Linked DNA regions of Homo sapiens: regions 1 and 3 are each linked to region 2. The links come from fine-mapping of genetic effects on gene expression. A gene starts in region 2. Each other region holds a variant in brackets. All regions are shown on one strand. Distances are from middle to middle.

What was found. PIP is the estimated chance that this variant, and not a neighbour inherited with it, causes the effect.
Region 1: its variant is fine-mapped to the expression of PROZ in uterus (GTEx, PIP 0.99).
Region 3: its variant is fine-mapped to the expression of PROZ in monocytes (Quach 2016, PIP 0.91).

Annotation. Positions count from the first base shown.
Region 1 is chr13:113,045,155-113,056,110 of GRCh38, reverse strand. MCF2L (MCF.2 cell line derived transforming sequence like) reads right to left here. Exons shown (of 30, transcript NM_001112732.3): 4 at 10,750-10,840. Among named protein-coding and RNA genes, the nearest start is that of F7, 55 kb to the left of the region's middle. RefSeq lists an enhancer at 5,041-5,627. The variant C/T (reference allele first, on the strand shown) is at 7,379.
Region 2 is chr13:113,152,046-113,163,001 of GRCh38, reverse strand. It overlaps PROZ (protein Z, vitamin K dependent plasma glycoprotein), which reads right to left and starts at 4,354. Exons shown (of 8, transcript NM_003891.3): 1 at 4,272-4,354; 2 at 2,825-2,988; 3 at 2,030-2,054. The coding sequence starts at 4,341. LOC124903216 (a long non-coding RNA gene) reads right to left here and starts at 8,502. Exons shown (of 4, transcript XR_007063880.1): 1 at 8,137-8,502; 2 at 7,887-7,945; 3 at 7,122-7,185; 4 at 6,392-6,472. F10-AS2 (F10 antisense RNA 2) reads left to right here and starts at 9,016. Exons shown (of 3, transcript XM_011537532.4): 1 at 9,016-9,088; 2 at 9,232-9,858. The coding sequence starts at 9,016. RefSeq lists enhancers at 3,140-3,717, 4,294-4,871 and a silencer at 8,586-8,635.
Region 3 is chr13:113,272,662-113,283,617 of GRCh38, reverse strand. It overlaps the pseudogene LDHBP1. Among named protein-coding and RNA genes, the nearest start is that of MIR8075, 15 kb to the right of the region's middle. RefSeq lists enhancers at 7,890-8,184, 9,137-9,636. The variant T/G (reference allele first, on the strand shown) is at 5,983.

The DNA.
Region 1 (10,956 bases), 110 kb after region 2:
GCACACCTTTCCCACAGGACCCCTCCCATGGAGACCTCTGCTTCATCTGCATTGCGTGGGGAGGGCAGGGACCACGGCCCTCAGTGGCCGGCACACTTGGCAGGTCCTCTGCGGGTGTCTGCTGCGGAGTGGATGAGGGAGGGGAGGCTGATGGCTTCCGGGGGACTCTCCTGTCTCCGCTGCTCTCCACACCCATTCTCTCCAGCCTCGGCCCCCAGGGAAGTGCTCTGGAGGGGCCCTGCATCTGCGCCCTCTCTGCCCCACCATCTCACACGACGCCTGGACATAGACTAAGGCCACAGCCATTCACCTTCTGCAGGGAGCACGTGTGGGTAAGATGCTGTGACGGACAGGCTGAATTACAAGCAGGGAATCGTGAGCTGAGCATCTGCCAGGAGTGTGATCCTGGTGGACGAGGCGCCTGGGCAGTCCTCCTTCGAGAAGCAAGCCCCAAAGAGTGGGACGCCCCAGGGCAGATTCTGTGTCTCAGCAAGGGGCGGACTGAAAATCCCTCACACTGCTGTGAAATTGGACACCACTATTTACGGAAAACCAGTCTTTTTCTGATGGTGCGATGAATCACGCTCTTCTACGTTTCACTGTCGTTTTTATCACCTGGATCTTTAAGGACAAGCTGAGAGCCTGAAGCTCAGAGATGAAGCCAGGTGTGTGTGTGTGTGTGTGTGTGTGTGTGTGTGTGTGTGTGTGTGTGTGTGTGTGTGTGTGTGGCGGGGGGGGGGGTCCACGTCTCCAGCAGGTGCAACTATTTGCCCCTAAAGCCTCTGGGAGTGAAGCATACCCCTGCAGCAAGGCTGGTCCCTGAGGCTCTGCCAGCATCAAACATGACCCCCTCTTCCTTGGCTCAGTTTTAGGGTTTCGTATTTTAAGTTATTGGATCATTATATTAAATAGAATAAATTGGAAGATCCTAGCTGAGTGAGAAGGTGCTAACGATGTACACAAACACATACTTTGAATAAATATAACAGCAAATAAAATTTTCTCTGAATTGGAGTTGACCGTTTGTATTAAAAGCTGGGGAAAGTTCTAAAATAAAAACTTTATTTTAAAAGATGGGGGTAAGTATAAATGGTAACTGGATGAAGAATTTGGGATGGAGGCTGTCAAGTCTTTTTGTAAATTACTCAACAGTAAAGTAATCCTATAGGTTTCTATCTAACATGAAAACAATATTGCTCATTTTCTGGGCTGACCTGGATGAACTTAGGAACAGATATGTGTGATGACCACAGCACTGTAGTCTGGAGATAGAAAAAGAGTTCACTGGTTTCTGAGTTAATATTCTTAGAGACTCAGAAAACAATCGCTGCATGTATTTACCAATGCAGCTAAAGCAACAGGACATGCTGGGAACTTTGTAGAACTGGGTACTTTGGGGAACCCTGTTTGAAAAACCCTCCCCAAGTTCAAATCACCTTCCTTAAGGTCTGCTCCAAGCCACACCTATCCAGCTTGACATTATATATTTAATTTCAGAGCAACTGAAACCTCACCAACTACATTTGTCTGACAGTAGCCAAACAGTAAACACAAGTTTATATAAAAAATATGCATTTGAAAGTTTGTTTGTGTCTCTGTGTTAACAGATGAAGAAGACGTTAGAGCCGGAATCAGAGACGCTGGACCGGGTGAGGAAAACAATGGGCGTGGACCCTGTTCCTGCAGATGTTCAGACACGAGTGCTCAGAATGGCCGCTGCCGTGTGCGTGAGGCCATCACTCCTAAAACCAATCCTAAAAGCGCGGCCGTTTGGGGACTGGTCCTCTAGCAAATGGTCCTCTAGAAAGCCTGGGAGAAAATACAGGGAGAATCTGCAGACACACATCCAATCGCACTCCCACTCCCGAATGTACAATAATCTCCACGAATTTCACGGGAAGCAGACCTGGAGAACAGGCGTGCATCCAGGATCCTGAGATTGGACTCGAATGACATTTGGGTGGGGACTACTATGAAAATAGGACAGTCTGTTGATTGATTGATGGGAGGGAGCTCGCCGTCTCTCCCACACTCACCCCGCAGCTCAAGCCAAGCCCCAGAACCTCCCCTCGGCTTCTCAGCAGACACCAGCAAAGTTGTGCCAAGGTTCTGCCCAGCGTTGGTTGCGTTTCGCCGATTCGGAGCCGTGTGAACTGAGCTCCCATCAAGAGTTGAGGAGTATTCGGGTTGTTTTTCTGGTCAACTTGTTAACCAGCTCCCTAAGGACCAGGACCCTGAAGGGGCGTGCATGTTTACTTTGCAATCAGTGAAAACCTCACTCTGCAGAGGCGGAGAGTACAGGCAAGATCACTGGAGACACAGCTGCAGGGACACAGGAGGAGACAGAGTAACAAATGGAAGGAGGCTCCAGGCAGGTGTGGATGCAGACGCCAGGCACCTGCTGCTCCCCTTGAAAACACAGCCCTGTGGCAACCACCACCGAACCACCCATTCAGGCAGAAACGGTCAGTGGACACCTCAGCCACGGGACCTTCGCCCCGTCCTGAGCATCACCACACATGACCCACTGATTACCAAGAGGAGAGGCACCTTCTCCTGGGGAAATCCGGACGCCTCCTTGGCCGTCTGAGCACACAACACCGCCCCAATCACGGGACACATGGACATCCTGGGCCTCCACGGGCTGCCCCAGAAGCTCACCCACCAGGATTCCCGCCCCAAAGGACCACGTGGAACCTAATTACAAGGAAACCAGATGAAAGGATATTCCATAAAGCAACTGGCTTCAACCCTTCGCAAATCTCAATCTCACAAAAGACAGAAAGCAAAACAAAAACCAACAACTGGGTGGATTAGAGACGACTGAGAAGGGTGGACAGCTGACGGGGGCGCCGTCCTTCACTGGACCTGGATTTTAACAAATACAGGAAGGACATGACGGGGCACGTGGAGAAAGCCCCATGTGTGGGCATCCAGAGGGCAGTGTGGCCGCGATGCAGACTCGCCTGTGGTTATGCAGAGGGCAGCTCCACTCAGGAGACACCATGTCAGCAATCCGGGATGAACTGACACGATGGCAGAGCCGGCTCTCACCAGCAAAATGTGTGTGTGTGTCTGTGTTTATGTGATGTGTGTATATGTGCATATATGTGTGTGTTTGTGTGTGATGTGTGTCTCTGTGCCTGTGTGATGTATGTCTCTGAGTGTATGCATGTCTGTGTGATATGTGTGTGTGTTTATGTGATGTATGTGTGGGTATATGTGTATATATATGTGTGTGTCTGTGTATGTGTCTATGTGATGTGTTTTGTGTCTGTGTGATGTGTCTGTGTGATGTGTGTACATGTCTGTGTCTATGTCTGTGTGTTTTTGTACACACGCACACACACACACACGAATGGGCACTTTGTTTATGGCCACAGCTGAGGTTTGTTCACTGTGAGACTCTCCCAAGTTTTCTGTAGGTCTGAAATTTTTCTGAACTGAAAGTTGAGAGGAAAAAGACACGAGGCTGCTGCAGCTCACAGCTCTTCTCCTCCATGCGTGGGGCAGCTGCATCTCCCCTCCCTCCTGATCCGACCTTCACTCAAATGCCTGAGCCACCGGGATGCAGGGGTTCTGACTCCGTGCAACGAGCTCTAAGCTGAAAAAAATAAACCAGGCAAATAGTCTCGCTCCAGGCATCCAGGGGAGTGAAGAGCAGCGCTGGAGAAGCTCAGCCAGCAGTCCCTGGCCTCTCACCGGCAAGGCCTGGCTCTGGGTTTATCAGTCAGGGAAGCCGGCGTGGCCTGCAGGGTCCACGGCCCACACGGAGCCTCATGAGGCACCTGGTCCCAGGGACCCCCGGGCTCCTTCCTCTTCTCTGCGAGAAAAAACCGCTGAGCGAGCCCGGGTCTCAGAGCTCTTTCTTTTTCTCTGTTTATCTTTTTAAAAAAATGTTTCTACATTTAACTGACAAATCATGATTGTATCTACTTACGGGGCACCCAGTGATGTTTTGCTATAGGTATCCTCAGTGGAATGATTAAATCAAGCCAATTAACCGATCTGTCACCTCACCCACTCACCAGTTTTCTGTGCTGAGAACATTTAAAATGGATTCTTTTAGCAATTCTGAAATATACATTTGGTGTGGTTGGAATGTTCGTCCCTACCAAACTTCGAAACTCATGGCAGCATTGAGAGGCAGTACCTTTCAGAGGTGACTGGGTCAGGACGGCCCCACCCTCATGAATGGATTCATCCATTCACGGATTCTCGGATTAACGGGCTGTCGTGGGGGTGGGTGGGGGCCTGGTGGCTTTGTAAGCAGCGGGGGCAGCCCTGGGCTGGCTCACTCTCCCCTCGCCAGGTGAGGTCCCGCGTCGCCTCAGGACCCACCAGCAAGAGGGATCTCACCAGGTGAGGCTCCTCAACTGTAAGGCATGAATTCTTTTTCGTTGTAAAGTGCCCAGTTTCAGATACTCTTGACATATAAGCAGCAGACCCGGACTAAGACAACCTTGTTATTCACTGTGTCGCCTCCGAGGTCTTTAGAGAGAGCAAAGTGGCTCGTGCCGCCCGTTATTGGACCCTTGGATTCCATGTTCCAGGAAATACACAGTGAAGAAGGGCTTGGGGCCTCTGGATCTCCCACCCCTGCTGGATACCCCAAGGCTGTCAAATCCACCCTTAGGTGGGAGGAGCGAACCCTCGGATGAAGGACAGTCGTTTAAATAGACGCTCTCAGCGTCGTGGAAGCCTCACGGGCTGCCTCCCCCTGCAATATTCTGCATGACCGGCACCGCCCACCGCCGTGGCCCTGGGACCACCGGAGTAGGGAGAGAGCTCGGGCTTCAGAGACAGAAAGGCCCAGGCCGCCCCCAGAGCCGCCCCACCCCATCGGCAGCTTCCCTCGTCGCCCCGAAGCCCAGCTCCTCCCCTGTAATCGGCGGTTGGTGAACGCGCAGGGTGCGCTGAAACGCATTTGCCACAGCAGCTGGTGCGGAGGAGACAGCCTGCAGATCCTGGTCCCCTTCTGTCCACCACGGGGGGACTGTGCTCACCTGGGCAGGTGCTTGCTGCACACAGCAGCGGTGTTCTGAGAAAGCTCAGCCACACCGGGAAGAGCTGGGTCCCCCACCCCCGTGTCGCCGCAGTTATGCAGCGCGCATTTCAGTTCCCTGCCCTGGGGGACGGTCTCGCCTCTTCCGAGAGGGGCACACGGACCTGGCCCTCTCTCCCTCGGCAGCCAGCTGCTTTGTGTTCCCAGGGGAAGCTCCTCGCCCCCCTCCATCTGGACAACTCCTCCTCCCGTCAGGCTCTCACCAAGCATCACCTCCGCCGGGAAGTCCTCCTGGAGTTAGCACCGCTCCCACCGCCCCCTGCCGCCCCCCTCCCCCCGCCACCGCCCCCCGCACCCCCCCGCTCCCCCCGCCCCCCCCGCCCCCGCCCCCCCTGCTCCTCCCGCCTCCCCGCTCCCCCAGCCACCCCCCCCTCCACCGCCCCGGCCCCCACGGCTCCCACCGCCCCCACCGCCCCCACGGTGAGCTCCTCCCCAGAGCCCCAGTAGCTGGCACAGGGGGGCCGCATACAATCGTACTTTGCAAATGTGAAAGATTTGCTGGACGACCTAGAAGTCCGGGGTCCCTCAGACACCTTGTTTTCTACCTTTCCTGCACACACAGACTGCACCGGCGTTACAGGAAAGAGAGTTGTGGCCCCATGCAGTCTAAAAATCAGATTCACTTTCTCCAGCCACCTACTTGAGGATCTAGATTTAGTTTGATTTAGGCTAGCTCTAAACATGAATATATATACTCTATTACAAATTCCCAAAATGTGAACACGCACACACACACTCACTCTCACACACACACACTCTCACACTCACAGTCTCACACACATTCACTTACACTCCCACTCGCGCACACACTCACACACTCACACAGTCTCACATTCACTTACACTCCCACTCGCTCGCACACACACACAGTCACACACTCACACTCACACACTCACACATGCAGTACAGTGGAAGAGGGTTAGATGTTGCAACAGCATTTTATAAAAGATGCTTCTATCTGAGGACCGCACAACTGCCTAAGGGAGAAGAGACGTGAGTTCTCAGAGGATCTCATCTTTCTGCCCCCTGGGTGGGTAGCTGTGAACCTATCCTTCTCCCACACGCCCTCAGCATCACATGGGTCTTGCTCTCGATTGGGAGCCTGGTTTTAGGAACACTGGATTTTGGCTCTTCCAATGTCTAATTTTTCTATTCCAAGCCATGCTGAAGGCATCCAGAAAAGAAAAAAGAACACCCCAAATTAGGGAGAGCTCAGCTCTTAAGACAGCACATATGGTGGCTAAAAATAGCCCCGGATCCCGGCACATTATGTAAGCGCTGCGTCCTCCTCGGTGGCCGAGCGCTTGGAGGCAAGTCTCTGCCACGGGCTTGCTTTGTGGCGCCCGCAGCACCATGAGCTGGGCACCCTGGTGGGGTCGGGCAGCTGGAGCCTGTGCCTGTTTGGAAACCTGCTTGAGGGCTCGGCTGGCCTGGACTGTTGCTAAGTGCTAGTTTTCCCAAAGCCACTTTAGGTGGAAGCCTAGGCCAGCCAAAGCTCGCTGTCAAGGCCTGGAGCCCAGGGGTTGGCGTCCAGGTGCCCCGCTGCAGCCACTACTTGGTGTCCCCACGTCAGGTCAACTGCACCATTTCCAAAAAACTGAATCAAGATGCCCAAGGGGTCATCCCTGGTCTGCCCTCTCCAAGGAGTGCGTGGCTCATGGACAGAGCCTGGGGCCTCCCCGCCAGCCCCACCACCCACCCCTTCCCCACTGCAGAGACCCTCACCCCTCCTGGTCTGCCCAGGACCTAGGCTTGGCTGGGTCCACAGCTGCCCTCACTCCCTTGACCAGTGACCCTCTAAGCCTCAGCACATGCACAACCAGCTCCTATGACAGTGCCACCACTGCCCGCCTCCTGCCTCCTTGGCCTTGTGGCCCACTTCTCCTTCATGAAACCAGGGCTGTGAGCTCCATGTCTCCTGGCCCATCCAATGTCCACCATCATCATCTCCTGCCGGTTTCTCATGCCCCTCCTGCACCAAACCCTTCTGGAGGCGGCGGGCTCCTGGGTAGCAGGGGCCTGGGGACAGGAAGACGCCCTCTCCAGGGTCACAGCCCAGGTGGATGGGGCCTGGCATGTGGGGCCTAACTCTGCCCCCTCCCCATGGCTCAGCCACCCTCCTGGCTGCTCCCTGCTGCCCCTGCCTGTGACCCCATTGTGATGCCCCTCAACTGTCCTCACCCAGCTGGCGGTGAGCCTTGCTCACTTCCTCCCTCACATCCGTGATGCCCAGGCAGTGCCTGGGACAGAGAAAAGCCTCAGGACGTGCTAACTACACAGAGTCTGTGTATTAATATGACCATAAGCCGGGCG[C/T]GGTGGCTCACACCTGTAATCCCAGCACTTTGGGAGGCCGAGGCAGGCGGATCACGAGGTCAGGAGATTGAGACCATCCTGGCTAACGTGGGTGAAACCCCGTCTCTACTAAAAATATAAAAAATTAGCCGGGCGTGGTGGCAGGTGCCTGTAGTCCCAGCTACTTGGGAGGCTGAGGCAGGAGAATGGCGTGAACCCGGGGAGGCAGAGCTTGCAGTGAGCTGAGATCGCGCCACTGCAGTCCGGCCTGGGCGAAAGAATGAGACTCCGTCTCAAAAAAAAAAAAAAAAAAAAAGACCGTAAATTATTATAGCAAGAAAGCACTGGTGTTCAGAGAGAATTCTGGGTGATTTTGCTGGAAAATGCTGGCTTCTGTTACTTCCAAACCAATGTTGGTCAATTCTGAGAATTAAAGGAAGGACAGAAAAAGCCATATTTTTATGGTGTAAGAATCAATGCAAAAATAAAAACTAAAACACTAACTGTTCAGTTATGATGCTCACAAGACAGAGCTTTCAAGATGAGCCAACCTGCTTAAGAAATTCATCCGATCACACACTCGGTGAACGGAACAGGACACTCGGCAGCTGAAGATCGACACCTAAATCACGGGTCTGCTGTGGGCTGCTTCGCTATCCTGTAGGGTGACCTCGCAGAAATACTTTGCTTTTAGAAAATGATTTTTGTATTTCTTAAAAAGTAACCTCGTATCTGGGGAAGCTCTTGTCATCTAACCCGGGAGTGACTGATTAATCTGAGACACACACGTGGTGATGTGTGTGCGAGGGCACTGGGGCACGCGTAGCGAGGCGTCAGCGGAGGGGCCGGGGCACGCGTAGCGAGGCATCAGCGGAGGCTCTGGGGCACGCGTAGTGAGGCGTGAGCAGAGGGGACAGGGCACGCGTAGCGAGGTGTGAGCAGAGGGGACGGGGCACACGTAGCGAGGCGTGAGCAGAGGGGACGGGGCACATGTAGTGAGGCATGAGCCGTGTGAGGGACGGGCTGTGGCAGGTGTGTGAAGATGCAGGTGCCTGGACCCCACGGGCATGAAAGGCACCCAGGTGCGTCCTGACACCGCAAGTGCCCTGGCAGGGAGGCCGACTCCTACACCCACGTGTTGCTAAGAGTCGTCCTGATGGCTGGTTTATATCAGCGGCAGGTAAGCATAAAAGATGCGGCTGTAACGGTGTTGTCTGTTGTTTAAACGACGACGTGCCTGCTGGGAGCATTGTGGGACCCGCCCAGGACGGATGGGTGCTTCCCAAGAGTATCTGTTGTCCGTCCATGTGTGTCTGACCCCGTGGGTTCTTATGATTTAATTTTTAGAGTTGCCTATGACTTCATGTGCAAACTCATTTAAGACGTACAATAATGAAAGGCACACATGGCTGTTAGCTGGTGATGGCTTTTATCTAAAGAACTTTCTGCATTTCTGGGGATGCTTGATATGGATGGGATTTTTGTCCCCTCCAAGTCTCATGTTGAAATGCGATTCCCAGTGCTGAGGTGGGGCCTGGTGGGAGGTGATTAAGTCTGGGCGTGACCCCTTATGAATGGCTCAGCGCCATCCCCTTGGTGACGGGTGAGTTCTCGCTCAGTAAGTTCACTGGAGATCTGGCTGTTCAAAAGTCTGGGACCTCCCCCTTCTCTCTCGCTCCCTCTCTCACCATGTGATGCCGGCTCCCCGCTGCCTTCCACCACGACTGGCAGCTCCCTGAGGCCCCCTCAGAAGCTGAGAAGATGCAGGTGCTAAGCCTGTGCAGCCTGCAGAACTGTGAGCCAATTACGCCTCTTTCTTTATCAATTACCCAGCTCAAGTACGTCTTTATAGTGACGCAAAAGCAAACGAACGCACTGTTAAAACAAAGGAAGACCGATTCTATACACGTCTACTTTTTTGGAAGCATCCTGAAGCGTTTTGAATTATTTCAGATAACGATGCCATAGGTGGTGTGTGCCAGGTTGAGTCAGGGTCAGGAACGGGGATCCGCCGCGGCGAGGGGCAGAGAGGTGCCGTGGGGGTGCAAGGAGATGCCTCATCCTAAAGACTTCGATGAGAACCAGCGGCTCAGGGACAGGCTTGCACCAAAACGATGAAGGTTGTGGGCATCGGAGCAGATATGGGGCCTCTAATTCTTGTAAAAGATGAAGGAATGAGGCAATGTGCGGGGAAAGGAATGACTTTTTTCAGTATACCTCAAACCTTGGCGCACCAGCCAGCAGCCACCGAGAGGCTGGGGAACCCAAAGGTAGTCTGAACGCGGGACCCAGGAAAGGCCAGGAGAATCTGACTTCACTGGGAGAATCTGACTTCACTGGGGTTTGGTGCTGGGGAATGCTTGGAGCAATTGTGCCATCACAGCTGAGGACCCAGGGTCCCAGAGCCTGGGAGGGACGGGCTGTGGCGGGCGTGAGAACATGCAGGTGCCTGGACCCAGGCTCTGGGTCACCTCTTGGCAGACAGGCAGCCTTTTTTGGTCCTTTGGCAGCAATGAAATTTGGACGGACAGGCGGGGAGAGCGAGCGTGGGTGAAAAATGCTCCATGCCGGGGTCATGCATACGGGTGGGAGCTACCGACAAAAATAAGATTTGGGGGCTTCTGCTGACTTAATCTCTTCCCTCTTAAATGATTACTCTGGGTTAAAACCAACAGCAAACCCAGCTCCCCTTCTGCTATGGAAGGCAGCGTGCAGAATCTGCAAACAGACTCTCGGATGCCAAGGGAAAGTCCTTGGAAAGGAGGGTGGCTACATGCGAGGCTGGGTTACTGGGGAAGGGAGGCGGTGGTGGCTAGTTCAGTGTCGCAGCTAGATGGCCTGATTTGGAAAGGAGAAAATCACATAGGAAAGCTGTGCAGTACCACTTCCAACTTCCAGCCTGGAGCGTCTCTGCACACAGCCCCCGTCCTGCCTGGTCAGGACTGTTGTGCTTTGTGTAAGAGGAAGTGCATGTTCAATCCCACTGGGGAAGGGAGGCGGTGGTGGCTCGTTCAGTGTCACAGCTAAAGATAGATGGCCCGATTTGGAAAGGAGAAAATCACTAATGTATAAATATGTAAGAGGCATATTCAGTCCCGAGCATCTCAGACTTGGTGTTCGGAAACATATGGGCTGCTCTGCCTGGGGAAATTGTTTGCAAGTCACATTGGGCTCCCTAAGAGTTCCTTCATCTGGGAAAACTCACACCCAGGCACCAGTGCCTTGGGAGCCCAAGCAGGGGGGGCCTTGGCGCCGGCCTCCACCCGCCGGGACTGGGCTCTGTCCCACTCAGCACAAAGCAGGAACTGCGGCAGACACAGAGGAAGGGCACCATGCGGTCATGCAGCCCAGGGAGGGGCCGGGCGCAGGGCAGAGCCCCGGGTGGCACTTACTGCGATGCGCAGGACGGACGCCTTCACGGAGGTCCATTTGTCCCGTCGCCGGTCTATCACCAGGATGAATCCGATGCCAGCGTCCTGCAGGCTGCAGTGAGGAAGAGACGCCGCCGTTAATGTGTGCAGGTGGGAAGCCGGCTGCCCACGAAATCCCTCAGAAAACCTCTTGGGAGAGCGATCCCCCATATTCATGATGCCATTTCT
Region 2 (10,956 bases):
AGGAGGATGGGGGTTGGGGTGGTGGTGACAGGAACGGGGACCTGAGCAGGAGGAGGGTGGGGGTGGTGACAGGAATGGGGACCTGAGCAGGAGGAGGATGGAGTGGGGGGTGGCAGCAGGGACGGGGACCTGAGCACCTGAGCAGGAGGAGGGTGGGGTGACAGGAACAGGGACCAGAGCAGGAGGAGGACAGAGTGGAGCAGGGACGGGGACCTGAGCAGGAGGAGGATGGGGGGACGTGGCAGGGACGGGGACCTGAGCAGGAGGAGGATGTGGGGAGGTGGCAGGGACGGGGACCTGAGCAGGAGGAGGATGTGGGGAGGTGGCAGGGACGGGGACCTGAGCAGGAGGAGGATGTGAGGAGGTGGCAGGGACGGGGACCTGAGCAGGAGGAGGATGAGGGGACGTGGCAGGGACGGGGACCTGAGCAGGAGGAGGATGTGGGGAGGTGGCAGGGACGGGGACCTGAGCAGGAGGAGGATGTGGGGAGGTGGCAGGGACGGGGACCTGAGCAGGAGGAGGATGTGGGGAGGTGGCAGGGACGGGGACCTGAGCAGGAGGAGGATGTGGGGAGGTGGCAGGGACGGGGACCTGAGCAGGAGGAGGATGAGGGGACGTGGCAGGGACGGGGACCTGAGCAGGAGGAGGATGTGGGGAGGTGGCAGGGACGGGGACCTGAGCAGGAGGAGGATGTGGGGAGGTGGCAGGGACGGGGACCTGAGCAGGAGGAGGATGTGGGGAGGTGGCAGGGACGGGGACCTGAGCAGGAGGAGGATGGGGGGACGTGGCAGGGACGGGGACCTGAGCAGGAGGAGGATGTGGGGACGTGGCAGGGACGGGGACCTGAGCAGGAGGAGGATGTGGGGACGTGGCAGGGACGGGGACCTGAGCAGGAGGAGGATGGGGGGAGGTGGCAGGGACGAGGACCTGAGCAGGAGGAGGATGTGGGGACGTGGCAGGGACGGGGACCTGAGCAGGAGGAGGATGTGAGGAGGTGGCAGGGACGAGGACCTGAGCAGGAGGAGGATGTGGGGAGGTGGCAGGGACGGGGACCTGAGCAGGAGGAGGATGGGGGGAGGTGGCAGGGACGGGGACCTGAGCAGGAGGAGGATGTGGGGACGTGGCAGGGACGGGGACCTGAGCAGGAGGAGGATGGGGGGACGTGGCAGGGACGGGGACCTGAGCAGGAGGAGGATGTGAGGAGGTGGCAGGGACGGGGACCTGAGCAGGAGGAGGACGGGGGGGCAGGGGGTGGCAGGAATGGGGACTGAGCCTGCTCATGCTGCTCCCCATGCCATCGCCTGGCCCCCAGGACGCTCCCCGCTCCGGATGTAAGGCCTGGCTGCCAGTGCCTCCCACTCTGCTGGGTGCCCTTTCTTCGTCCGCACGCGGTCCCCTCTGTCCCGCCCCATCAGCCCTTCTCCGGCCTTCCCTGCCTCTCCCGCTTCCTTCTGTGCCCAGTTGTCCCCGTGCTTGTCTGGTGGTGGCTGCAGCTCTTTGCTTACTCATTCCCAGGTGGGTCCTTACCCTGGCCTCCCCCAGCCCCGTGGGTCTCCATCTGTGTTACTTCTGTCCCATGCTCTTCTGCAGTTGCCCACCTAGAGCTCCTCCCTTGGGAGGAGTCTCCTAACCAAAGTCTCCATCGGGGCCATGACTTTCCAAAATTTGAGACGAGTTCTGACCCTGCTGCAGCATGAGGCTTCCCAGGAGCCCAGGAGCCAGGCGGCTGGAGGAGCTGCTCTGGGGGGGCCCTCCTGGCCTGTGGCCCATGTCCCAGAGTGCCAAGAAACTACCCAGACACTGGGCAAGACAAACCAGGCACTGCCTGTGGCCCTGGTGGCAGAGCCCGGGGGCTTCCTGACCTGGTCCTTGGGGAGAGTCGGAGCTGCCCTTCCCTGGAGAGACACCGTGGGTCCTGGAGCCAGAGGCTTGGCATCCGCTGAGCTGGGGTCGTGAAGCGTCCTAAGCCCACCCACGCACCTCATCCCGAGGAATTAATACTTCTGAGGAGACGAAGGAAACCACTTACCCTTATATCGTCTCCAGAATTCATCCTTTAGAGTTAAAACATAAAAATGTTACAAATGGGATATTTGTTTTTCTATATTCTTTCCTGTAGATGAACTTGAAGGTAAGAAAATGTTGATTTTATTCACTTAATAGGACAATAGTGGTTGAAACAATGCACAATTTTCCTGTTTTACAGCCTATTTGTTTATGTTAAATGTATAGTAACTAAATGTATCTGTAAGATATATTACTCAACATGTGCTTACCACCACCTATTTGAGGAAGGCCAGAGTCTATGACATGGCACAAACCCACCACCCACAGCCCCTAACGTGGCCCTTCCCTTCTAGGGCCAATCTCCACGCCACCCTCCACAAAAGCACATGATATAGAAGTCACATCACCTTTTCGCTTTTTATAAACCGAGTTGAATTTTAAAGATATATACCTCTGTAGGGAGTGGGGACACTTAGTTTGGGGTAGGAGTATCTAAAATTAGGAGAATTATTCAGACTTGAAGCCTAGAAAGAAAATGTATGCTGGGTGTCTGATCAGTGTGTGGGCCTTGCCTGACCTGAAGAAATGAGTCCAGTGGGCTCTGAGCTGACTTCCAGCCCCACTCACTGCTGTAGGGAAAGGTGGATTAAGTCGATTCTCTAAATTGTTTCCTCATCTGTAAAACTGGGATTGTGTCAACCTCATCGGTAAGTAAATAGGCTAATTAATTAAGCTTAATCTCTGAGAAATGATGCTCCCTGGGCCAGCAGAAGTCTAAATAATGAGGAGGCCTGTGGTTTGTGGTGGGGGTACATACAGTGACTACTTCATTTTCAAACACTTCTCTTGCTTCTTCATAGACACAGATTTCTTCATAACATTCTTTTTCCAAGTTTCCCTCGAAGAGTTCTTCCAGAAGATAGGAGCCCGCACGCTTCCACCTCACCAGAACGTCGTTTGCTTTGGAGGCCGGGAGAAATACTACAGACGAGACAAGAAGGCAGGTGACTGGGAGCACCGAGGGCCCTGCTTTCCAGAGCTGCCTGGCTTCCTCCCCGGCCGGCCGCCAGCCCCAGCCCCGTCCGTCTCCACAGGCTCTCAGCCTGCGAGGGCCTCAGGGCCACCCCGCTACTCCCTCCCCCGAGGTAGGCAAGCACTTCATCCTCTGGGCGAATGGATCAGCCCCAGGATCAGTGCGGATACACTAAGGTTCTGCAGAGAGGCCACGGGCCTCAGTCAGGAAAGTGGAGGAGGGAGGGCTCCAACTGGGTTTTGGGTCTGAGTGCGAAGGAAGGCTGAGCTGGGGTCAAAGGTCCCCGTACTGAGAACTGGGGACCAAGAGCCATCAGCTCCTGTGCTGCCTCTGTGCGCAGCATTTAACATCTTGATAAAACACATAAAGAAGAAACTTATACATTGCAGCAGGCTCTGCGATTTCCAGGAGGAGAAGGCAAATGAGTTGACCCGCGGCAGTGGTCTCTGGAGCCTCTTCCCACCTGAGGGTCCCAAAGCATGTTCTCTCCCTCTCCGGGAGGGTCAAAGCCCAGGCCCTTCCCATCCTCCCTCCTTTTCTCTCGGTGCTGAGGGTTACAGCAGGGGGGGCTCAGCTAAGTCCGGCTACGGTAAGTGCTGGGCAGGGCAGGGCGGGGGGATCACCCTCTCAGGGTGGGAGACCATGGGGCCAGCGGGAGACCATGGGGCCAGCGGGGATGCTGGGTGTTTTGACTTGCAGCTTTCCTGGACGCCTGTGCAGGCAGAGTCAGAATGGAGTCCATGTCGTTCCTTCAGTGAAGTGGCTGGTGGTAGAAGGGTGGCAGGCAGGCAGGGTGGCTGCTCCCTGGCTATGTCTCCTGACTCAAGACTGGGCATTCCTGGCTGGCCTGGCCAAGGCTCTCTCTGCCCACATTGCAGTCTGGGCTCAGCCTGCCCCACCCCCTCCCCTCGTCCAATGCCCAACCCAGGCCTCCCCCCACTCCTCCCCCTTTCCCCCTCCCCTCTCCCCGGCCTTTCCCGGCTGAATCCCCTGCACACAGGCTTCTTTCCATTTGGGCATCTCTTGGGAGGACCCCAAGTGACACTATCATGTCCCAAATACTTGTCACCAAATGATAAAGATCCAAACAGCTTTTTCAGGGGAATTAAGACTAGTCTGGGCACTCAGGGCTCCTCTGGCTCCTGGAAAAAGCCTCATCTACAAATCCACCATGGACCGAGTCAAGAAAGACACAGCACAGGCACAACAGACAGGTAAGCCAGATGCCTACCTGAGGGCTCCACACGATGGAGGGCGAGGACCAGGACCAGGCCCTGGAGCAGTGGGACGCAGCCTGCCATTCCCACCCGGAGCGCTGGGACAGGGCTACAAACACAGCCAAAGTCCAGGCTGGGGGAGGTGCCGGCAGCAGGAGCCTCGGGGCACGACCTGTGCAGCTGTGTGCTTCCCTCCTGACGTTTTCTGTTTGAGGCCAGGCAGAGAAATGAACGGTGAAGGCTCAGAGGACCCTGGGAGATATTTAGGGAGACAGAGAACAGAAGGTAAAGGCAGCAGGTGCAAGGTGGAAGGTGGCACCCATGCCCGTGTGTGGTCAATGGAGGTGAGATAGGCCCTGGGGACACAGCACTGGGCGGGACAGACAAAGTCACATGCAGCTTACGTTCTAGGTGTGTGTGGAATACACAGAAAAGAACGAGGGAAAGAGACAGGAGGGAGTGAGGGAGGGAAAGCAGGAGGATGGAAAGAAGGAAGGGGAGAAAAGGAAGGGAGGGAGGGAGGAGGGAGAAAGCGGGGAAGGGCCAAATAGTGTCTGTCACTACAGCTCAGCACCATTGTAGCAGAGGCAGCATAGACAATCATGAATGAACACTTGGCTGTGTGCCAATAAAGCTTTATTTATAAGAGCTATTAAGGGGCCAGATTTGGCCCCAGGGTTGTCGTTTGCTGCTTTCAGATGTAGGCCCTGTGTATTAGTCCCTTCTTACACTGTTATGAAGAAATAGCCAAGACTGGGTAATTTAAGAAAAGAGGTTTAGTTGACTCCCAGTTCCACATGGCTGGGGAGGCCTCAGGAAACTTATAATTATGGCAGAAGGCACCTCTTCACAGGGTGGCAGCAGAGAGAATGACTGAAGCAGGGGAAATGCCAGATCCTTATAAAACCATCAAATCTCTTGAGACTCACTCACTATCCCAAGAATAGCATGGTGGAAACCACCCCCATGATTCAATTACCTCCCACCGGGTCCCTCCCAGGACACGTGGGGACTATGGGGATTACAATTCAAGATAAGATTTCGGTGGGGACACAGCCAAACCATATCAGCCCTTGAAGCCTGAGGTAAGAACCTGGTGTTTCATTTTCACTGTGTTGGGAAGATATTGGAGGGAACAGGAATTGACATGGAAAGATTTGTGCTCTGAAGGGATCACTGGGCTGCTGTGTGGAGAACAGAACATTCCAGAGAAGTCAAAAGGGAGGCTGCCGGCTAGTCCAGGAGGGGGTGAGGGTGCAGCCATGCAGCAGGAAGCACGTTTGCAGTCTGGATGCTTCAGGAAGGGAAAGCTGATGGGATTCATGATGAATTGTGTCGGGCAGCACGGCTCCAAGGTTTGGGCTGAGCGATTGGGAGGATGGCAGTGCGTGTGCTGAGACGGCCAAGCTCCAGGAGGGCAGAGGGAAGCGAGGTTTGGCAAATTTGAGGTGTCTGTGGGATGTCCAGGTGGAGACAGGAGTGGGCATCCGAGAAGCTGGGACTCACAGTGGAGATTCAGGTGGTAACAGATGAAATGACAGCATTGTCAGCATATAGATATTGTTCGATTGAATGACACTCAAAGGTGGCAAAACTCAATGAAAGGATTCTAAATACAATTTTGTTAAAGTGGGAACAGAAGAAAACTAAGAAGCTGACACCCTTGATTAAGAGGGCATGCCCGCAAATACACTGAAGTTGTGAAGTTTGCTTTAAAAAGCTGGGAAAAGAAAATAAAGTTTATCTTTAGTGAGTGAGTTAAAATAATTTGAAAGCCAGAAGTTGATTGTATAGGATAGCTCTTGGGTGAATTGCACCAGCCTGGCAATCTACGTGGCCTTCACTTAAGAAAAGGTGCCTTTTTTTGTGTGAAAATGTATTCCCACATGGAAATTTACATTAAAAATACTTCTGCTGGATAGTTTAAAAACCATCAATAGCTGCCTAAAAATGGAAAGGCAGACAGGGACATACACATTCGATCAATAAGTGTTAATTAAGCACATCCTATATGCCTGACATGGGTATCTGAGCTACAACCTCTTCCCTCATGGACCATTTTAGTCTGTTGGGGCTGCTGTAACAAAACACCTTAGAGTGGGTAATTTACGATAAACAGAAACGTAGTGCTCACAGTTCTGGAGGATGGGAAGTCCAAGATCAAGGCTCCAGTAGACTCAGTGTCTGGTGACGGCCCATGATTCATAGACGTGTCCTTGGATGGTGGAAGGGAGGAATGTGGGTGCTCCCTGGAGCCTCTTTTGGGAGGGCAGTCATCCATCCATGAAGGCAGAGTGCCTCCCAGAGGCCCCACCTCCTAGTACTATTGCACAGGGGGTTAGGTTTCAACGTGAGTTTTGGGGGATGGTTTGGCTCTGTGTCCCCAACCAAATCTCACCTTGAATTGTAATAATCCCCACAGGTCAAGGGCAGGACCAGGTGGAGGTGATTGAATCATGGAGGTGGTTCTTGTGATAGTGAGTGCATTCTCACAAGAGCTAATGATTTTATAAGGGGCTTCCCCCTGTGATTGACACACATTTTCTCTCTCCTGCCACCCTGTGAAGAGGTGCCTGCTTGCCATGATTATGTTTCCTGAGGCCTCCCCAGCCATGTGGAACTGTGAGTTCATTAAACCGCTTTTCTTTATAAATTACCTAGTCTCAAGTATTTCTTCACAGTGACATGAGAACAGACTAATACAGGAAGGCATCAACATCGAGGCCACAGCTGTGATTGACTGTGTTGTACGTGGACTGACCGTGTTGTATGTGGTGATTTAATTTTCTCATCTGCCTTCTCAAAGATACCACCTTTGGACCAAAAATTCTACAATAATAAATTGTCCAAACATTAAGATTCACCTCGTTCTACTCATCTTCCTCATCTCTCATATGAATAATCGTTCTTCTGTCACCCTCTTCTGTTCTGAAAAACAAACCAACCAACATTGGGACACTTTTTCCATTGACTGGTTTACTTTCCTTCTGTATACCTGAGGAGAATCTTCCTTCCTTTGGGGTCTTTGTCGTGTCCTTCAGATGTTGGGGTGTCCTCTGTGGGGGTCCCCAGCTTAAATCAACTGACCCCACAACTTTGTGTGGAACCTGAAATGAGCAGCCTATGGAGAACCTGGTCATTGAATACTTAGATCTTGCCGCAGTCCCTATTTAAATACCTGTTCAATCAACTCTGGGACCTATGTTTTAGATTTCAACATCTCTGAATTGGCCTGTTCCCTACAGCCAATGTTCTAATGTCAGCCTGGACAAGGCCGAGTTCTTCCTGAAAGGGGTTGTGCTTTATGTTGCCCCCTGGGGGCACTGCCACTTTGCAATCCCTTTAAATACATTTTTTTGTGTGAGTTTTGGGAGCCCATGTGAATAGTGTAAATGTATTGCAAAGCTGGTTCCTGGCTGGCCTGTGGTTTAGATTATCTGAGCTTCCCCCTCTTGCCTCCAGGCTGAGCTGACCCACAGCTAATTTGGGTATATGCTCTTTCTTTCAGGTTCATCAATAATGGTGCGTCTTAGATTCACAGAGTAGAGTGTGGTCTAGTCCACTTTGTGGTGCTGTAACAGGATATCTGAGACTGGGTAATTTATAAAGAACAGAAATTTATTTCTTACAGTTCTGGAGGCTGGGACATCAAAGGTCCAGGGGCCCCCATCTGGCGAGGGCCTTCTTGCTGCGTCATCCCATGGTGGAAGGTGGATGCGCGTGAGAGAGAGAGAGAGAGAGAGAGAGAGAGAGAGAAAGGGGAGAGAGGAAGGGGGCCAAACTCATCCTTTTATTCCAAAATAACGAACCCACTCCTACAATAGTGGTATCAATTCATTCACGTGGGCTCTGACAATGAATGCGTCTTAAAGGTCCCACCTCTCAACACTGTTGCCTTGGGATTAAGTTTCCAACACGTGCACTATAGGGACACATTCAAACCACAGCATGCTGCATCCTCTGATGTCCACATTGTGGATGGAGGTGGCAGCTTATCACCTGGAGCTCCTGAAGAAATTAAAGAGGAGACACATGGTGACGCAGCCCACAGCCTGGCGTTTTTAGCATCTCAGAAGCACTGACAGGGACCCGCAAGCTTATGAGAAACTGTTCAACTCATTGGGCTTCCTCAGAGCTTGGGAGACCATTAATGTGGAAGACACTATCTGGACATGTTTCTCTTTTTTCCACCTGTCTAGATTTTCTTTCAGGATCGGGGAGACTTCTGGAGTAGAAAAGCCACTCCAGAACCCTTCCTCCTCCTCCCCCACACCCCGCCTCATGAGCGGCTGCCCTCCGCGTGGCATGGAGTCCCCGCGTCCACTCAGAACCCTTCCTCCTCCTCCCCCGCGCCCCGCCTCCCCCGCGCCCCGCCTCCCCCGCGCCCCGCCTCCCCCGCGCCCCGCCTCCCCCGCGCCCCGCCTCCCCCGCGCCCCGCCTCCCCCGCGCCCTGCGTCACGTGCCCCTGCCCTCCCCGACGCCCCGCCCCCCACGCCCCTCCTCCCCCACGGCCCGCCCCCCCACGCCCCTCCTCCCCCACGGCCCGCCCCCCCACGCCCCTCCTCCCCCGCGCCCCGCCTCCCCCGCGCCCCGCCTCCCCCACGCCCTGCGTCACGTGCCCCTGCCCTCCCCCACGCCCCGCCCCCCACGCCCCGCCCCCACGCCCCGCCTCCCCCACGCCCCGCCCCCCGCGCCCCGCCTCCTCCACGCCCCGCCTCCCCCACGCCCTGCGTCACGTGCCCCTGCCCTCCGCGCAGCATGGAGTCCCTGCGTCCCGGCTCCACGGTGCGGGAGTCCTCCGTGGTGGCTGAATTCGCCTTTCAGGCCCTATGTTCAGGATTTGTGATCTGGGTTTTAAAAACATTTTTTAGAAGTCATTGGTAATTAAAAACAATAAGTTTTTTATTGTGGTAAAATAGACATACAGTTTACCGCAGGAATCTTTTTTTAAGCGTACAGTTGGCTGACCCTGAGTGAATTCGCTGTTGATAATCTGCTTCTCCCTGAGCTGCTGTCGCCCACACTCGCCGCTGGCCGTGCTTGTTTTTCTCCTGGAACTGGGGCCGGTGTCCCTGTTGACCTTGTCCCGGGTAGCTGAGCCCAGGGGACTCTCCTTCCTAGGGTTACCGCTCAGTATCAGCACAGCCACAACGTCCAGCCAGGGAGGGCATCCGAGGCCCTCAGCACCCACCCCGGGGGTCCGGCCCGCGTCAGGCTGCGAGTTCCCGAGTCCCTGGACCCAGCTGTGCCTGCTGGGGTCAGCGCAGTCTGTGAGCCTCGACCCCCAGCTCCCAGCAAGGCCTCCCAGCAAGGCCTGTCGGAACCCAGCGGAGACCGGCGGCTGGGGCTTGTCCTCGAGCGGGGGCGCAGGACACGGGGCGCGGGGCTCCTGCCCTTGCAGCGTCCTGTCAGGATGGACGACCCAAGCCAGACGGCGCTCCCTCCCGCCACACCTGGCCGTACTGGCCTCCAGCCATGCCGGTGCTGCCGAGGCCCCCGTGTGGGACAGGCCCCCGCTCCCGCCCGTCCTCCTGGCTGCATCTGCACCCGCCCGTACCCGCACCGGGCCTCACTGGCCCCTTCTCAGACCGGCACAGCCAGGTAGGTCCTCCCTAAGCACCACAGGTCGGGGCGGCTGGGCGTTTTGTAAGGACAAACTGCGACCGTGAACCCCGGGACGGCTCAGCACCCAGGCAGCGCGGCCTCTGAACGCTGTCTGCGGACTCGTCTCTCCTCCCCACTGGCCCGGCCACACGTCCATCCAGCCCCGCTGTCTCCCTCTTTCTGTGTCTGTCTCTCCGCCCTCTTTGTGTCTTGGTGTCTCCTCTCTCTCTCCCTCTCCCTGTCTGTCTCTCAGCATCTCTCTCTGTCTCTGTCTCCTGTGTCTCACTGTGTCTTTCTCTGTGTCTCCATGTCTCTGTTTCTCTCTTGTTCTATTCTCAATTTTTTTGTTTGTTTTTTACCTGGACTTACTCCCTCCCCTCTGTTTCTCTTTCTCTGTCTCTCTCTTTCTCTTTGTCTCTGTCTCTCTCTTTCTCTCTGTCTCTGTCTCTCTCTTTCTCTCTGTCTCTGTCTCTCTCTTTCTCTCTGTCTCTGTCTCTCTCTTTCTCTCTGTCTCTGTCTCTCTTTCTTTTTGTCTCTCTGGCTCTGCCTCTCTCCCTCTCCCCTCGCCCCCGCTGAGCGCTGTCTGACGGGAACCCCCAGCAGTCTCCCTCGCTCTCCTGGCAGCCTGCAGACTCCTCTGGTCTCACTGACTGCAGAGTCACTGGCTGTTTCTGGTCTTTGCTGACGCTGACGTTTTTTAAGAGTCTATGGTTTCCTCCATCTGGACTTGCCTGACTCAGGATCGGGCTCTGCTTAGACAGTGTTTTGGCAGCCCCCTGCCTTCGGCTCAGGAGGAGGCTGGGTCCCCAGGTTTTGCCACGCTAAAGGCATGCTTTCCTGGCATAGTTAACAGGCCAGTTCTGAGGTGATCCTCTGAGTCTCGAGGGTGTCCAGTTTCTCAGTGCCCTTCCACCAAGGTGGGGTCTTCATGGCGGGCGCTTGCCCACATCAGTGGCTACCCCGTGGCTGTGGAGTGGGGTCCTTCTAAACGGGAGCTTAACCCCCAGCCCTGCTGAGATGGCTCCATGACAGTGATGGTGGGGCCGAGGTCTGCCGTCCACCAGCTGTCCTGGCTGAAGCTCTCATTCCTGCTTC
Region 3 (10,956 bases), 120 kb before region 2:
GCTGGTCTTGAACTCCTGGCCTCAAGTGGTCTGCCTGCCTCTGCCTCCCAAAGTGCTGACATTACAGGCGTGAGCCACTGCACCTGGCCTCTTTTAACTTTTAAAATCAACTTCATTGAGGTTAGTTTACATAAAATAAACCCATTTTAGGTGCTCAGTTTGAAGAATTTTTACAAGTATGTATACCCATGAAACCACCACCCCAATCAAGATAGGAAACATTTTCTTCAATCCAGAGGGCTCCCGCATGGCCTCTGCGGTTCACCCGACCCCTAAACCCACACGGCCACGGGTCTGCTTTGTCACAAGAGATGAGTTTTGTATCACAGCATTTCACTTTGTTGGAAGCACAGAGTGTGTACTTCGTTGTGTCTAGGTTCTTTCTCTTTGGGTGATGTTTTTGAGGCTTGCGCATGTTGCTGTATGCAGCATGCCTTCACCCTTTTTAGTGCGAAGGCACATCCCGTTGTTTGGCTCTACCATAATCGTCTGCTCATGCACCTGTTGAAGGACATTTGGGTTGTTGTTTCCATTGTTTTGGTAGTTACAAATAAAGCTGCCGTGAATGTTTGTGTGCAGGTCTTTTGTGGATCCGTGCTTTCCCTTCAGTAAATACCTGGGAGTGGAATGGCTGGGGCGTGTGATAGGTGCGTGTTTAGCTTCCGGAGAAACTGCTACCTGTTTCTCCAAAGTGGGTGCACCATTGCATGTTCCCCACAACAGCGTCTCCACATCTCTGCCAAAACTTGGTATTGTCAGTCTTTTTTTCTAATTTTTTCTTTTTCTTTTTTGTCTTTTGCAACAGAGTCTTGCTATGTTGCCCAGGTTGCTCTCAAGTCCTGGCCTCAAGCGATCCTGCCACCTCAGCCTCTCAAATAGCTGGGATTACAGGTGTGCACCACCACTCCCAATTTGTCTTTTTAATTAAAAAAATTATAATAGCTTTGTAATAGTGTCTCGTGATTGTCATTTGCATTTTACTGACAACTAATGGCATGGAGGGTCCTTTCATGTGTCTGATATCCATTTGTATCTTTTTCAGTGAAGTGTCTATTTATAGAATGTTTGGCATATTTTTAAGAATGGTTTATTTTCTTATTGTTGAATTCTGAGTGTTCTTTACATATTTTGGACACAGATCCTTTGTCAGCGCTATGTATTGTAAATATTTTCTCCCATTCTATGCCTTGCCTTTTTTTTTTTTTTTTTTTTTTTTTTGAGACAGAGTCTTGCTCTGTCAGGCTGGAATGCAGCGGCACGATCCTGGCTCACTGCAAGCTCTGCCTCCCGGGTTCATGCCATTCTCCTGCCTCAGCCTCCCGAGTAGCTGGGACCACAGGCACCTGCCACCACGCCTGGCTAATTTTTTTTGTTGTTGTATTTTTAGTGGGGACACGGTTTCACCGTGTTAGCCAGGATGGTCTCAATCTGTTGACCTCGTGATCTGCCTGTCTCAGCCCCCCAAAGTGCTGGAATTACAGGCGTGAGCCACCGTGCCCAGCCACCTTTTTGTTTTCTTAATGGTATCTATCAAAGAGCAAGCTTTCAGTTTTTTTAATGTATTTTATTTTATTTTGAGACAGGGTCTTGCTCTGTCACCCAGGCTGGAGGGCAGTGGCACAATCAGGGCTCACTGTGGCCTTGACCTCCCAGGCTCAAGTGATCCTCCTGCCTCAGCCTCCTGAGTAGCCGGGACTACAGGAATGTGCCACCACGCCCAGCAAATTTTCTGAGTTTTTTTGCAGAGACAAGATCCACTGTGTTGCCCAGGCTGGTCTCAAACTCCTGGGCTCAAACGAATCCACCCGCCTTGGCCTCCCAAAGTGCTGGGACTCCAGGCATGAGCCACCCCGTCCAGCCCAACACCCCCTTATCCTATCTCAAGCATTTCTTTCTACTGACCTCAAGTCTTTAATTCTTTCAACCAGTTGCCAATCAGAAAATCTTTGACTCCATCCATGACCTGTAAGCCCCTTCCAACCTTCACTTCAAGATGCTCTGCCTTTCCAGGCAAACCAAAGTATACTAACCTGCATCCGTTTACGCCTTTGCCCACAACTTCTGCCTCCCTAAAATGTGTAAAACCAAACTGGAACCCAGCCACCTCACGTGCATTCTCAGGACCTCCTGAAACTGTTCCCTGGGCCATGGTCACTTGTATTGGCTCAGAATAAACCTCTTTCTTTCTTTCTTTCTTTCTTTCTTTCTTTCTTTCTTTCTTTCTTTCTTTCTTTCTTTCTTTCTTTTTCTTTCTTTTCTTTCTCTTTTCTTTCTTTCTCTTTCTTTCTCTCTCTCTTTTCTTTCTTTCTTGCTGTCTTTCTCTTTCTTTCTTTTCTTTTTTTTTTTTTTGAGATGGGATCTTGCTCTGTCCCCCAGGCTGGAGTGCAGTGGCACAATCATAGGCTCATGCAGCCTCAAACTCCTGGGCTCAAGGGTAAACCTCTTTCAATATTTTACAAGTTTGGCTTTTTCGTCAAAATTGCCTCGGCATCTTTATTTTTTTGTTTATTTGGTTTTTGCTTTTTTGAGACAGGATCTCACTCTCATGACCCAGGCTGGAGTGCAGTGGTGCCATCACTGCTCACTGCAGCCTCGACTTCCCAGGGCGGGTGATTCTCCCACCTCGGCCTCCCGAGTAGCTGGGACTACGGGTGCGTGCCACCACACTCAGATAATATTTGTATTTTTAGCAAAGATGGGGTTTCACCATGTTGCCCAGGCTGGTCTTGAATTCCTGAGCTCAAGTGATCCACCTGCCTCGGCCTCCCAAAGTACTGGTATTACAGGTGTGAGCCGCTGTACCTGGCCTGGCATCGTTGTTGAAAATAACTTGACCTGATGTAAGTGGATGAAGTTTTATTCTCTCTGTGTAACTCAGTTGATCTCTATGTCTCCCCTTTTGCTAATATCACAATGTCTTGATTTATAGTAAGTCTTTGGTATTAGGTAGAGTAAGTCTTCCAACTTTGTTCTTTTAAAATTTGTTTTGACTATTTGCACTTCCATATACATTTTAGAATCAGCTTGTCATTTTTCTATAAAGAAAGCCAGAATTTTGCTGGGCTCTGGATTGAATCTATTATCAATTTGGAGGAGACTGACATCTTAATATTGGGTTTGACAATAATGTGGTATACATCTCTATTTATTTTAGTCTTCAACTTTTTTTTCAACCATGTTTTGTAGTTTTCAGTTGTGTTAGATCATTTTGGCTGCTATAACAAAATACTGTACATTGGGTGACTCATAAACACTGGAAATTTATTTCCCACAGCTCTGGAGGCTGGGAAGCCCAAGATTGAGGCGCTGGCAGACTCATTGTTTGGTGAGGGCTGCTTTCTGGATCTTTGATGGTGCCTTCTTGCTGTGTCCTCGCATGGCGGAAGGGACTGGCTACTTCTCTGGGCTCTTAAAAGGGCAGGAATCCCATTCACAGATTCCACCTGCACGACCTCGTCACGTCCCAAAGGCCCTACCTCCTGATACCATCACCTTGGGGGTGAGGATTTCCACACACAAGTTTTGGGGGTACACACTAGTCTACAGCATCATATAACCATCTGAATCCACAAATGTCTCTCTAAACACGCTCTAGTGCATCGGACAAATTTTTGGTCAATTATTTTCATACTCATCAAATTCAAAACATTTTCTAATGTTCTTTGTGATTTTTCTTTGACTCGTGGATTACTGATTTACAAGTGTGTTATTTATTTAGAATTTTCTCTTTATATTAGATTTATTCAAAAATATATTGCTTAATTTTTTTTTTTTTTTTTTTTTTTTTGAGACGGAGTCTCACTCTGTCACCCAGGCTGCAGTGCAGTGGCACGATCTTGGCTCACTGCAACCTTCGCCTCCCGGGTTCAAGTGATTCTCCTGCCTCAGCCTCCTGAGTAGTTGGGACTACAGGCACGCGCCACCATGCCCAGCTAATTTTTTGTATTTTTAGTAGAGATGGGGTTTCACCATCTTGGCCAGGGTGGTCTTGAACTCCTGACTTTGTGATCCACCTGCCTTGGCCTCCCAAAGTGCTAGGATTACAGGCATGAGCCACTGCACCCAGCCTATGCTGAATTTCTAACCGTTTAGTTATTTAGTTATCTTTCTGTTAGATATCTAACCTCATTGTGGTCAGAGGATGCATTCTGTATAATTTTAATCCTTTAAATATATTAACCCTTGTTTCATGAGCCACCCGTGCTCATCCTGGTGTGTGCGGCTGTTGTTGGGTGTAATGCTACCTGACTGTCATTGTTGGGTGTAATTCTATGTGACTGCCGTTGTTGGGTGTAATGCTACGTGACTGTCGTTGGGTGTAATGCTATGTGACCGTCGTTGGGTGTAATTCTACGTGACTGTCATTGTTGGGTGTAATTCTACATGACTGTCGTTGTTGGGTATAATGCTACGTGACTGTCGTTGGGTGTAATGCTATGTGACCGTCGGGTGTAATTCTACGTGACTGTCGTTGTTGGGTGTATGCTACATGACTGTTGTTGGGTGTAATTCTATGTGACTGTCATTGTTGGGTGTATGCTATGTGACTGTTGTTGCTGGGTGTAATGCTGACTGTCGTCGTTGGGTGTAATGCTACGTGACTGTCATCGTTGGGTGTAATTCTATGTGACTGTCATTGTTGGGTGTAATGCTATGTGACTGTTGTTGGGTGTAATGCTACACGACTGTCATTGTTGAGTGTACTGATACACGACTCTCAACTGGCTCCAATTAGCAAAGAGTGTTTTTCAAGTCTTTTCTATCCCTCTTGATTTTCTGCTATCTCCTCTCAGTTACTGAAAGAAGAGGGTCAGCACTCCTGCTGTACCCATGGGTAGGCCTGTTTCCTGTTGCTCTTGTCTGCCCATCAGCTTTTGCTTTACATATTTTGAGGTCTGTGAATAGAGGCCTGCCCAGTTAGGGTTAAGTCTTGGGATGAACGTCGGTGTTTTACCGTTATGAAAGGTACCTCTTATCTCTGGTGAGATTCCTTGTCCTGAAGTCTACTTCGATCTGAATGTAGCCACTCTTATCTTTCGCATTCGTCTTCATGGTATGTCTTTCTTCATCTTCTTTCTTCTTTAGACAAGGTCTCAGCCGGGTGCCGTGGCTCACGCCTGTAATCCCAGCATTTTGGGAGGCTGAGATGGGTGGATCACTTCAGGTCAGAAGTTCGAGACCAGCCTGCCCAAATCCCATCTCTACTAAAAATACAAAAATTAGCCAGGTGTGGTGGGTGGCGGGCACTTGTAATCCCAGCTACTTGGGAGGCTGAGGCAGGAGAATTGCTTGAACCCTGGAGGCGGGAGCTGCAGTGGGCCAAGATCGCACTACTGCACTCCAGCCTGGGCAACAGAGCAAGATTCCATCTCAAGAAAAAAAAAAGGCTCTATCTTGCCCGGGCTGGAGTGCAGTGGCGTGATCTTGGCTCACAGCAATCAATCTCTGTCTCCAGGTCAAGCCATCCTCCTACCTCAGCCTCCCAGGTAGCTGGGACTATAGGTATGCACCACCATGCCTGGCTAATTCTTGTATTTTTTTGTAGAGATGGGGTCTTGCCATGTTGTCCAGGCTGGTCTCATACTCATGAGCTCAAGCAATCTGCCCGCCTCGGCCTCCCAAAGTGCTGGGACTGCAGGCGTGAGCCACCGCGCCCAGCCTTCTCTTCTTTTTGTTAAGAAGCATGCTACCATGGTTCATTTGGTTCATTGTATTTGTTCAAGGACTCGATTGCAAGCATGAAATCAAGCATGGGATTTGATTCTGTGAGCCCAAATTCACATACTGAAGAAGATAAAAGCAAACGGTGATGCATGTATATGGATGAACACTGAAGGCTCAGGGTTCATCTCACTGTGGTTTTAAATTTCTACAGCTTAGGAGTCACAGGTCTTTGAGGTCCTTTTGGATGTCCCACGGGGTATCTGCACTTTTCTTGAGCAGAACAACCTCATTATCCCTTAGCTGTGGTTGGTAACACTG[T/G]TTAATCCCTGAGCAGTGAGGGTACATGGGAGGCTCCAGAGGGCTTCATTCTTGGTGCCCTGCATCCCCTTCACTATTGTTGATACTGGGTGAGCCCTGGACAGATTTTTCAACGTGGATTCAATAAGATCAGCTACACTTCACCCAGGAGCCCAGTCGGTATATCCTTTTAGCTTGATGACCACAGGCACTTTCAACCACTATCTTATACACTTCCTTCCAAGTTTCCTGATCATCATTAGTTCCCATTTCTGGATTCAATTCCTGGAGAGAAACACCTGCCACGTTCACACTACTCCACACAGCCACACTTGAGTCACTGTGTTCTCCCCAAATCCATCCGTGGCAGAATCCAGATCACACCCACTTCCAATCACACAGTGCTTGGGTAATCCAACATATGTAAGAATGTGCACTGCATTGGAAACCTCAATTATGATGCAACCAAGCTCTCTCTGTACCAGGTTGAGATGACTGTCTCACTCTTTTGTTTTTAGACGTAGTCTCGCTCTGTTGCCCAGGCTGGAGTGCAGTGGCGTGATCTCGGCTCACTGCAACCTCTGCCTCCTGGGTTCAAGCAATTCTCCTGCCTCAGCCTCCTGAGTAGCTGGGATTACAGGAATGCGCCACAACACCTGGCTAATTTTTTTTGTATTTTTAGTAGAGATGGGGTTTCACCATATTGGCCAGGCTGGTCTCGAACTCCTGACCTTGTGATCCTCCCATTTTGGCCTCCCAAAGTGCTGGGATTACAGGTGCGAGCCCAGTGGTCACAGAGTCATCTTTATCTGCCATAATTTTAGGTGTCTGAAGAAATAAGCTGCCATCTGCAGATCCACCATGCCACCTTTACACTGATCTTCCGTAGCACGCACAAGAGCAAGCTCATCAGAGACCTTCCCAGAGGCAGAGAGCACGCGCCTCACCAGCTTCTCCAACACGCCCACAGTGATCTGCTTGTTTGGGACCTGTTGCCCCTTCTGCAGCTGGTGCAAGGAGTCTTTCCTTAAGAAATGCCCTTGTGCCCAGGAGAGAGTAGGCTCTGGAAACTGCTGTAACAGTTGTACAGAGAAGACAATGCCAGCTGCGTGCGTCTCGTGGTCTTTCTTCATCCTTTAACTCATCTGTGTCTTTATTAAAATGACTCTCTGGGCTGGGCATGGTGACGCACGCCTGTCGTCCCAGCAGTTCTGGAGGCTGAGGCAGAGGATCCACTTGAGCCCAGGAATTTGAGACCAGGCTGGGCAACACAGTGAGATGTCATCTCTACAAAATATAAACAATTGGCCAGTTGTGGTGGCGCACACTTGCTACTCAGAAGGCTGAGGTGGGAGGATTGCTGGAGCCTGGCAGATTGAAGCTGCAGTGAGCCGTGATTGTGCCACTGCACTCCAGCCTGGGTGACACAGTGAGATCCTCTCTCTTGAAATAACAGTGCCTTTGTAGTAGACAGCATATACTTTGGTCTTAATTTTCTATACAGCTTGAAAATCTTTGGCATTTAACTGGAGTGTTGTTTATGTCATTGTTACCAATAAATTAATGAGATGGTCAGGTTCAAGTCCACCCTCTTTCCATTTCCATTTGTCCTATCCGTTCTTTATTCCCTTTTAAAAGTGAATTTCCAGGCCAGGCGCGGTGGCTCACGCCTGTAATCCCAGCAATTTGGGAGGCAGAGGCAGGCAGATCACGAGGTCAAGAGTTCGAGACAAGCCTGGCCAACATGTTGAAACGCTGTCTCTACTAAAAATATAAAAATTAGCTGGGCATGATGGCGGGTACCTGTAGCCCAGCTACTCGGGATGCTGAGGCAGGAGAATTGCTTGAACCCAGGAGACAGAGGCTGCAGTGAGCCAAGATCACATGACTGCACTCCAGACTGGTGGCAGAGCAAGACTCCATCTGAAAAAAAAAAAAAAAAAGAATTTCCTGTCTGCCTTTTGTAAAACAAACATAAAATTCAAAGCCCCCTCAGACCATCTGAATGGACCGCTGTATCAGGGAGGGCATTTCCAAGGCTAACCTGAAGGGCTGGCTCCGGCCATGATGGGGGCAGGGGTCAGACATGACTCATGATACCGCCTTTTGGAATTATTGATAGAACAGACTCTTTAAGCCTCATGAGAATCTGTTCCCTCTGAAGCCTGCCACCTGGAGGCTGCATCTGCATGGTGAAAGTTTGGTCTCCACAGCCCCTTATTATAACCCAGACATTCCTTTCTGTTGATTCCAGGTCTTTAGATAATAACTCTTTCAACCAATTGCCAATCAGAAACATTTTAGATCTACCTATAACCTGGAAGCCTCCCACAGCCCCTGTTCCAGACCAAACTAACGTACATCTTACATGTATTTGATTGATGTCTCATGTCTCCCTAAAAATAAATTAGTCTGTGTCCTGACCACCCTGGGCACATGTTCTCAGGACCTCCTGAGGCTGCGTCATGAGCCATTGGTCACTCATACTTGGCTCAGAATAAATCTCTTCAAATATTTCACAGTTTGACTCTTTGTCAACACTTTGGATTGAGTGTTCTTTCAAATTATACTTTGTCTCCTCTGTTGGCTTGTTCTTTCTCTCTTTGCCTCTCTCTCTGGTATTGTTAGTGGCTGCCCCAGGGTTACCACACACATCTCTGGCTCATCACACTCACTAGACCATCTCCCCTTTCCCCCAGGGCTGTCACACACATCTCTGGCTCATCACACTCACTAGACCATCTCCCCTTTCCCCCAGGGCTGTCACACGCATCTCTAGCTCATCACACTCACCAGACCATTTCTTTCCCCATTCTTTGTGTCGTGTCATTCGTTTTACTTCTACATATGGTATTAATGCCAACATATATTATTTTTGCTTTCAACAGTTGTTTTTAAAGAAAATAATGATTGTGTAGCTAATTTGTGTGAGTGTCTACCCAAATGCTTGCAAGTGCGGGCGCTCCCCAGGCCTTCGGCAGACCCTGGCTTCTATCTGGCTTTGCTTTCCAGCAGCTGAAGCTCCTTCCTCCTGCACTTCTCCTACTAGAGGTCTCTGTCTGAAAAGGCATACTTTGCCTCCATTCAGAAATGTATGTTCACTGAATACAGACTTCCCAGCTGACAGTGTTTGCTTCAGCTCTTCACTAATGTTTCTGAAGATAAGCCACTTAGATTTGTATGGAACTGGGTTTTCCTGATGAAGAGGCACTGTGCTTGTGCGTGACTGTGACTCATTCCTCTTTGCTGGTGTGTAGTACGTGTCCTAAGCAGCTTTGTGTGTGTTCACTTGGAACCACCCCATGAGGTAAGTAGGATTATTATCTCCACTTATAAGAAAACCAAGGTTTAAAGAATTGCAGGAATTTGCTCAGGGGCACCTGGAGAGTGACAGATGGAGGACCTGGCAGAGGGGGGACCTGGCCAGTGTTAAAGCTTCTCTGCTGATCCCAGTGCCTTGAAGGTGCTGTTCATTCTGTGAAGAGTGGACTCCTGGCAGGCGTCCACTTCTCAGTACAATGCTCCCTCAACTTGTGCTGCAGTTGGCCTTGGTTCCTCCATCACGGACCACAGAAAGCCTTACCTCTGCTCGGCTGTCCGCCCCTCGGCTTCCTTAGGACCTCTGCCGGGGGAGCACACTGCGCGGGGATGTGGTTTCCCTGTTCTGTTCCCTGGGAGGAGCACGCTGCGCGGGGATGTGGTTTCCCCTGCTGTTTGGGAAACCTGCCCGCAGTTATTTCTCCTTTCCGTATGCTCAGATTCTCCCCTTTTCTCTCTTGCTTGCTCAGTTTGATGCTTGCTCAATTCTCATTACCCGAGAGCAGCTCTCCCTGGCCTCTGCCTTGCCTCCAGCTACATCTCGCCGCACCCACTACCCGTCGGGCCCAGCACACAAACTGAATGGCCCGAGATGCCACCGTGATGGTCTGTTTCTGATTCTCACCATACCTTAAAACTCCCTTCTTTTGTTCTGTCACACTCGTACTTCTCCCCATTCTTATCTTGCTGGTCTTTGTTCCTTCCACTGGCCCTGCTTCATTCACTCCTCAGTGTTTACTGAGCACTGTGCACCAGATGCTATAGACTTGGGGACAGGCTTGTGCCTAAAAACACGACTTCAGAAGCCTGACGAATGGGGGCCCAGATCACAACACACGTGCTTGAGCTTGAGACCTGTCTTAAAGAAAAAAAATTGACAACTCTCTGAGGCACTAGTTCAATTTTTTTCTTGACGGCATCTAGCGCTGTTGCCCAGGCTGGAGTGCAGTGGTGCCATCATGGCTCACTGCAGCCTTGACTTCCTGGGCTCAAGCAATCCTCCCACCTCTGCCTTCTGAGCAGCCAGGAGTATAGGCATGTGCCACCACACCTGGCTAATTTTTATATTTTTTTGTAGAGATGGGTTTTCACTATGTTGCCCAGGCTGGTCTTGAGCTCCTAGGCTCAAACAATCTGCCCACCTTGGCCTCCCAAAGGGCTGGGATTATAGGCTTGAGCCACCGCGCCCCACTGGTGTGTAATTTTAATCCTAACATCATTTGCCTGATGTGCAGGAAGTCAGTACACTGAGACACTGGGGATTGCAGCAGAGACGGAGCTTAACACCCAGAGGGGAACTGAACAAGAGACAGAGGAAGCCTTGAACGCGCCTCTCAGAGGAGTTTGGGGCTGGGGATTTTAAGGGTTTCGGAGTGGCCGAGGTGTGGGAGTTGCTGATGGGTTGAAGAGTGCAGGCTAAAATCATGGGATGGGGGGATGAAGAACCTGCATTCTCATGCCGCCTCAGCGCCCTGTGGGAGCCTTTGACTGGTTGATGTCAGCTGTTCTGCTGGAATTGAGGATCTGAAAAACATATTAAGCAATGTTTAAAGCCTTATGGTTCTAACGTCAGTGGTCCTATCTATGAGAATAATGGGGGTGCAAATGATCAGTATCCAGGGCTACAAGACTTCCAGTTACAAGGAAGTGGGCCAAAGTGCAGCCTGATTCATGCTT